Linked DNA regions of Homo sapiens. The protein of the gene in region 2 purifies or fractionates together with the protein of the main gene of each other region. This does not show direct contact. Each region holds a gene or a part of one and is shown on either strand. Other genes may lie near its edges.

Region 1 (2,921 bases), on a different chromosome or scaffold from region 2:
GTTACCTTGCAAGGTCTACATTTCAAGAGACACCACAGGCTGTTCTCCAAAGGACTCCCAGCTGAACTCAGAGCAACAAGAGAGGGGTGTGGGCAGGGTGCGAGGGGCAGTGCAAAAGGGAGCTCCTGGTCTTCACTGGGGACCTGGGGTGTGGGAAGAATTCCTAGCCACAAGTGGGAAGGCATCCAGGCAATCAGAAGAGCAAGGGCAGTGGGGTTGTGGTGAAAAACAGTGGGAAGAGCTTTCAAGGACAAGGTCCCCATGGAACAGAGGAGCAGTCTGATGAAGCCGGCGCATGCCTGAGACCACTATCATCAAGCTCTGGGGCTCATGTGCCTCTGAGGTCAGGAGACGGTTTCCCAGGCCTGGATTTGGCCCATTCTGATTAGGGTTAGGCCCTCTATACTGATCTGGCCACAGACCCACTAGCAGCCAGGGTGGGGCCCCTCCTTCAGAATCAAGCAAAAGCTGTGGCCCTCAGGGGGCTGCACCGAGCACCTAGGACATTGATCACTGCATCCAAAGGTCCAAAGTTTTATTGTTTTGAATACATTCTCCAGCGGCCCCTCTACTCCCCCCACCCTCAGTCCCCAATACAGAATAAGGCTTGACCACAGCCCCCCACCCCACCCCAGAGGCCCCAGCTGGGAGGCAGAGGGGGCTTCCAGTTTGGTTTCAGGGCACCCCCTTCCCATCCCCCCACCCGCCTGCCCATGGGCCAGTCCTAGGAGCAGCTGGGGATGAAGGGGTTGGACCGGTGCTGGGGTGGGGAGTGGGAGAGGGATAGCAGGCACTTGTAGAGATTTGTGGCCCATGGGCGGCACCCCTCACCCTCCTCCGCCCCCCACCCCCCAACACATGGAATTTTTGGTTCATTATAAAATTGTCCCTCCCTCCCCTGCTGTGACCTTGTGGGGTATGAGAAACCTAGGCACTCATGGCCCCCTGGAGGGGCAGGGCAGGCAGGGCTGGGGCTGAGGAGGGCTGGGAGTGGGGCAGAGCGGGTGGGTCAGAGGGGTACAAGAGGCAGAGAACAGGGAGGGAGACAAGGCTTTACTTCCTAAGCGATTGTAATAGAAAAGTTCCTGGGTGTTAAGGCCAAAGCCTCAATTCAAATATAAATTCCCCAGAATGGAGGTGACCCCCTTAACTTCCCCCTCCCTCCCCCTACCACCACTTTGCCCAGAGCTTAGAAACCCACAGAGACAGGGAATAGCCCCTAGCCCTGGGCACCCACCCACCCCCACCATTTTTAAAAAAAAGAAATTAAAGTTTTATACAAAATGTGGGGAGGGAAAAGGGAGGAGGCAGGGAAGAGACAAGAGAGCTGCCCTCACCTCCAGGGCATAGGGGGCTTAAGGCAGCAAAAGAAGCATGGGGGGTGCGGGGCACACAGGTCCCCTGCCCACAGCCCTCAGGAGTCTCGGTGCTCCAGGGAGAGCTGGGCCGTGGCATGCTGGAGGTCAGAGCTCACCCGCCTTGGGGTGAGGGGCCCCCCAGCCTCCCCAGGCCCCTCCCCACGCACCTTCTTGTCCTCACCCTCATCCTCAAAGCCCCCAGCGGGGCCCCCACCCCCTTCGAGGCGACAGTCTTCACTCCAGCGCCGCTTAAAGCGTAGCTTGAGGGGCATGCACTGGGATGCCCCGGGTGCCTCGCCGGGCTCAGGCTTAGGGGGTGCAGGTGGGGCACGGGGCGTCTTGAACACCTCCCCGTCTTCCTCATCCTCATCACTGATGTCAGTCACCTCTACCTCCTCCGACTCGCCTTCCGAGATGGGCTCCACCTTGATCTGTGGTGGCGGGGGCGGTGGGGCTAGCGCCCCTGCCCCCTCAGCCAGCCCGCCTGCACTGCCACCGCTCTTGTCAGCACCGGCTACGGCCTTCTCCCCAGCTGCCCGCTGCCGGCGTCCGAGTGGGGGCGGCTGGAGCTTAAACTTGAATGGGGAGGAAGAAGAAGAAGAGGATGACGAGGCCGAGGAGGGGACCGGTGGGGTCTCGGGTGCCATGGGCGGCAGCGGGCACTTGTCAGGGCGCTGGGGCTGGGGCACCACCAGCCCAGGGTAGTGCAGGAAGGCGCGGGGGCTGAGGTGGTAGTTGTAGACGCTTTGGGTGTGGGCCTGCAGGTACCGTTTCATGTCCTCAGGGCTGAAGGAGAAGTGGGAGCCTCCCCCTGAGCCGCTGGGCCCCCCGCCACCACTGGGGTACATCGGGCTCAGCGTGGGCGAGGGAGTGTAGGCCAGGTGGGTGGGCGTCATGGGCAGAGCCGGGGAGAGCTGAGGGGGCAGCAGGGATCCAGGACCGGCCAGAGGCGACACAGGGAAGGGGCTGAGGGGTTCAGGGCCACCCCGAGGCCGGGGATAGACTCGGAAGACACCAGGGTCATGGGGCAGGCGGGCCAGCGGGGGCCCTCGGAAGGCACCCAGATCCGGAGGGCCGGGTGGTCGGGCGCGGGGATCCTCTCCCAGCGGTTCCTCCAGCTCTGACGTGCCATCACTACAGTCACTGACTGAGCCTCGGCCCAGGCGGCGGGCCACCACAGCCGAGAAGAGGGAAGATGAAGATGAAGAGCAGGCTGGTGGTGAGCGGGGGTCCTCGGTGGGGGACAGCACCTCGGAGGGCGTTGAGGGAGGGAAGCGGAAGTGGCTACCACCCGACGGCACTGGCGGGGCACTCTGGGGCACTGCACCCCCTGGCAGAAGGGAGACAGTGTCAAGGCCCCTGGCCTAGCCTGAAGGGGCATGTAGACCCTCTCCACACCAACCATCCCTGGTACTCACCAGCCAACCCCACATCAATGAATGGGTAATTGACCAGCACCAGTTTGTTGAAATTGAACTTGTAGGTGAACCGTTTCCCCTTGGTCTTGTGCAGAATGCGCTTGTTATAGTAATAGCTGTGGGTACAGAAATGCCATTGGGAAGG
Region 2 (4,245 bases):
CGTCTGCAGTATGTCAGGGGAGCGATGTTCTGTACCTGGATAACACTTCCTTCTAGACATTCTACTCACTATGCCAAAGGAAAAGTTAAGCCTGGGAACCGAGACACTCCAAAACTGCCTTCCTTTTGTTCCCAAACATAGCTGTAATTTCACACGGTTGCTTTATCTTATGTAAAATGTAGATTTACTGAGCACGAGATAAATGCATCATTGACTTTCCCTCCATTCCCTTGTTTTCATGTGCTAAATGTAGATTCACTGAGCACCAATAATAAGAGCTCACAAGAATGTAACCATTTGCCTCACTGTCTACCCTCTTTTTATCCCCCGCTCCTGCTTGCTCTTTCCCCTTTAAATACCGAAGTTCCTCAAACCCTCTTTGGGAAAAGCACAGGACAGGTCCTCCTGTGACTGGTGTTTCTTTTTCCCGGGCACATCCTTAGCCTTGGCAAAATAACTCTCTCATGGACTGAGTGCTGCTTCAGGCACATTTTCGTTTACACTTTTAACCTTTTCTGACTTCATCCTCAAGGACATTTCTTTCATGCACATGTGAAAAATCAAACTCTACCAAGCAGCTGTTCATTCCCTTGAATGCTGACACTTAAATAACATCACAACTAAGAGAGTTGCTTTCTCAGGACAGCAGTTCAGAACCATAAGACTTCGGAGGTAAAGAAAGCAGGGAGAGCATAACGCTAAGTTTCTTGGAAATTTTTTTATTCTCCTTGCCAACATTTCTTTTGACATTTTATTACTTAATTATGTGACATTAAGAAATAATTTGGTTGCATATTATTTTCAAAAAGCAGTAAGAAAGTAGCTATTGAGAAAGAAGGAGGGCCATAGGTTTTTCAATAAAACGTTAGAAACATTATAAAAAACGAGACTCCCATTACATGGAAACACATGATCAAAGATCAGACTAACACACATTCAAACAGGCTTGGTTCGAAATAGAGTTCTCCATTTCTTTCAGATGAGCCTTTTTTCTTAGGCTCTTTCAGAAGCACTTCACAATGAACAGAGGTCTTGCCAGCTCATTTCATTAGCGGAGAAGCAAAGGTATGATGGCAGAATCATGAGAAGATGGAAATAAGGCCTGAGGATATGGCTTGATCTCTGAGACCAATTATCTTTGAGTTATTCAGGCCAGGATAGAAGCTTAGAGAGGATCGAGGCAAACCATGAAGGGAAGGGAATGCAGGACAATGCCCATTACTGGCTTTACCACAAACTCCAAATCTCCTGGACCCACTTCGCAAGGTTGTAAAGTTAAATGAGGAAGGAGCCTGCATTGTTTGTAACATAATACAATACTTTCACTTTGTCTTATTTTTTAAGGTGCAGCTCTTCAAGAATTTCATTTTTTAAAAAATCATCTGTAAGGGAAGAAAAAAACGCATTTAATTCAAAGACTGATTTTTTTTTTTTTTTTAATGGAGTCTCACTCTGTTTCCCAGGCTGGAGTGCAGTGGTGTGATCTCAGCTCACTACAAACTCCACCTCCCGAGTTCAAGTGATTCTCCTACCTCAGCTCCTGAGTAGTCGGGATTTTGGGTACCCACCACCACACCTGGCTAACAGTTTTTTTGTAGTTTTAGTAGAGATGGGGTTTCACCATGTTGGCCAGGCTGGTCTTGAACTCCTGACCTCAAGTGATCTGCCTGCCTCTGCCTCTCAAAGTGCTGAAATTACAGTCATGAGCCATCACGCCCCGCCGAAGATTGGTTTTCATACAAACAATTCCAAATAAAATATCTAATGATGACAATCTGACACAAATGACAATGCCAGATGCTTGTCAGAAAATATTATATATGTATACATTTTAAGGATGTTACCACCCTCTGTAAGAAATACCAGCACACACCCACCTCACCCCCTCTCCACAAAACAGTAACAACAAACCTTTCACAGCACGGGCGAACTCGCTCTTCTGCTGACTTACTTTCTACTCGGGTTTCTGATCCTAGTCATGTACTTGTCTGGGCTACCGGCGCTCATTACCGTAGTATAAATTGTGAAGCTGAAAATTATGAGGAAATTTTATGTACACATCATTTTCTCTAATATGCCAGAAAGGGAAGAAAATGACCAAGTGCTTCCCTAACACTTGAGATCTGGGACAAGGCCCTTTATGCCAGAATATTTTAAATCTATGAATCAAGAGGTCAAAGTGCACTTTCCTCCTATTTTGACAACACTGTGGAAGGCCAAGTTGGAACTTAAAATTCTCAGACTTAATTAGCTGGGTGTGGTGGTGCCTGAAATCCCAGCTACTAGGGAGGCTGAGGCAGGAGAATTGCTTAAACTTGGGAGGCAGAGGTTGCACTGAGCTGAGATTGCGCCACTGCACTCCAGCCTGGGCAACAGAGTGAGACTCTGTCTCATAAAAAATAAATAAATAAAATCTCAAGACTCCTCAGAGCTCTACCCCAAGGCAGTGGGGGAGACCAAGCCTTGGCCCTCACCCTGGCTCTGTCCTACCCACAAGGGCCTTACTTGCACACATGTGACATCACCGCCTTCACATTCCCCAGCAAGCACCTGCCCCTGTGCTCTCTCTCAGTGGCCATGCACCACCATCAGGAGAATATCACCCAGGGAAGAGGAAAACACAAACCCTGGAAGTGGAGGTGGGGCTGTTCAGGCTGAGAATTACAGGGTCCTGGGTACTTGGGCAGACTCCAGGTGGGCAAATGCCCTTGGTCCAGCAGATTCCTTACACCATGCTTTGGGGGGGTGGTATCACAACTAGAGGAATTCCAGAGGAGGGCCTCTAAAGCTCCAGGATCAAGGCACCTGCCCCGCCCCTCCACCTTGCCCAGATCTAAGGATGAAAAGTATAGTGTCATTGATTACACATTCCGTATAACAAGAGACCTAAACAACTTGAGCACATGTGCCCACATGTACACACATTTGTCTTGGAATCCAGTTGAGGTGCATGTGCAAAATATCGGAGCTGGGTTGTTCAGAAACAGGCAGAATTAGTAGCACTGGGTCCACAGCTAAATCATACACCCAGTTAAAGACAGCACTGTAAGCAAGTGCAGAGCTCGTCCAAGGGTAATGGAGGTTCCCTGAACAGGACCTTAATTGCTCGTTTACTTTAGTCATAGTTCTGCTCTCCATTACTGTTTTAGTATTTTCTCTACTGATGAGCCACAGCAGAGGATGGAGATGTATTGCAGGTGGGTGTAATTTTGCAGCATGGCACAAAGGGGCAGCATAGAGCTAACTGCCTTTGTTCAGACTACTTTTTTGTTGTTTCTTTTTCTTTTTTTCAGATACAGCTACACTTATTTCTATTAACCTAATACAACTGAACAGCCTCAGTTGAGGTTAATCATTACATGTAAAGGGCCTGAGAGTCAGAAGTCTGTGTTAATTCTGGCTCCATGGTGATTGTCACTTAAAAGCAGTTTCTCTTGAATTTTCAAGTATACAACAGAGAAAAACACTACTTGGTAAACTGTTTATAATTTCTAACAATTTTATTTTGACCAAACCATTTCAGAAACCATTTAAACATTCATAACTGTTAACTCAGTAATCCTACTTCTGGGAATTCAGCCAAGGGAAATAATCTGAAAGTAAGCAGGGGAGAGGCAAACGAATATGTTTATTTCAGAGTTTTAATAGAGGAAAATCTAACAACTGGAGAATGCTTAACTCAATTATAATACAGCCAACTGGCCACTGCCACCATGTAAAATTATGAGGGCTGTTCAAAGCAGAGAAAATGCTTTGTTTTATTAAAATAAATGTAACTATTTTATTATAATACTAATTTTTAAAAGATATATTCATCACTTCTTTTTTTTTTTTTTTTTTTTTTTTTTTAAGACGGAGTCTCCCTCTGTCGCCCAGGCTGGAGTGCAATCTCAGCTCACTGCAACCTCTGTCTCCCGGATTCGAGTGATTTTCCTGCCTCCACCTCCCAAGTAGCTGGGATTACAGGCACGCACCATGACGCCTGGCTAATTTTTGTATTTTTAGTAGAGATGAGGTTTCACCATGTTGGCCAGGCTGGTCTCGAACTCCTGACCTCAAGTGATCCACCCGCCTCGGCTTCCAAAGTACTAGGATTACAGATGTGAGCCACTGCGCCCAGCCAGATATATTCATCACTTCTATAATTACCTAAAAAAACTATAAGAACACAAAAGTAGTTTATTAACCCCCATTTAAAAAATGACTATTAAAAGGGCAACATTGTGCCCCGCTATGAAGGGTACA

Evidence for each region.
Region 1: the proteins of NAAA (region 2) and ERF purify together in Homo sapiens (affinity purification with mass spectrometry; 3 studies listed by BioGRID and IntAct, with this or other methods). This does not show direct contact.

The regions. Positions count from the first base shown.
Region 1 is NC_000019.10:42,247,051-42,249,971, forward strand, and holds the end of ERF (ETS domain-containing transcription factor ERF), read right to left. Parts: intron 2,893-2,921; coding exon 2,777-2,892; intron 2,689-2,776; coding exon 1,415-2,688; 3' UTR 519-1,414; downstream 1-518. UniProt on the Homo sapiens protein: Potent transcriptional repressor that binds to the H1 element of the Ets2 promoter. May regulate other genes involved in cellular proliferation.
Region 2 is NC_000004.12:75,912,957-75,917,201, forward strand, and holds the end of NAAA (N-acylethanolamine-hydrolyzing acid amidase isoform 1 precursor), read right to left. Parts: exon of another isoform or gene 4,159-4,245; coding exon of another isoform or gene 4,146-4,158; exon of another isoform or gene 3,594-4,145; coding exon of another isoform or gene 3,548-3,593; exon of another isoform or gene 3,482-3,547; intron 2,030-3,481; coding exon 1,948-2,029; 3' UTR 1,912-1,947; intron 1,383-1,911; coding exon of another isoform or gene 1,371-1,382; 3' UTR 704-1,370; downstream 1-703.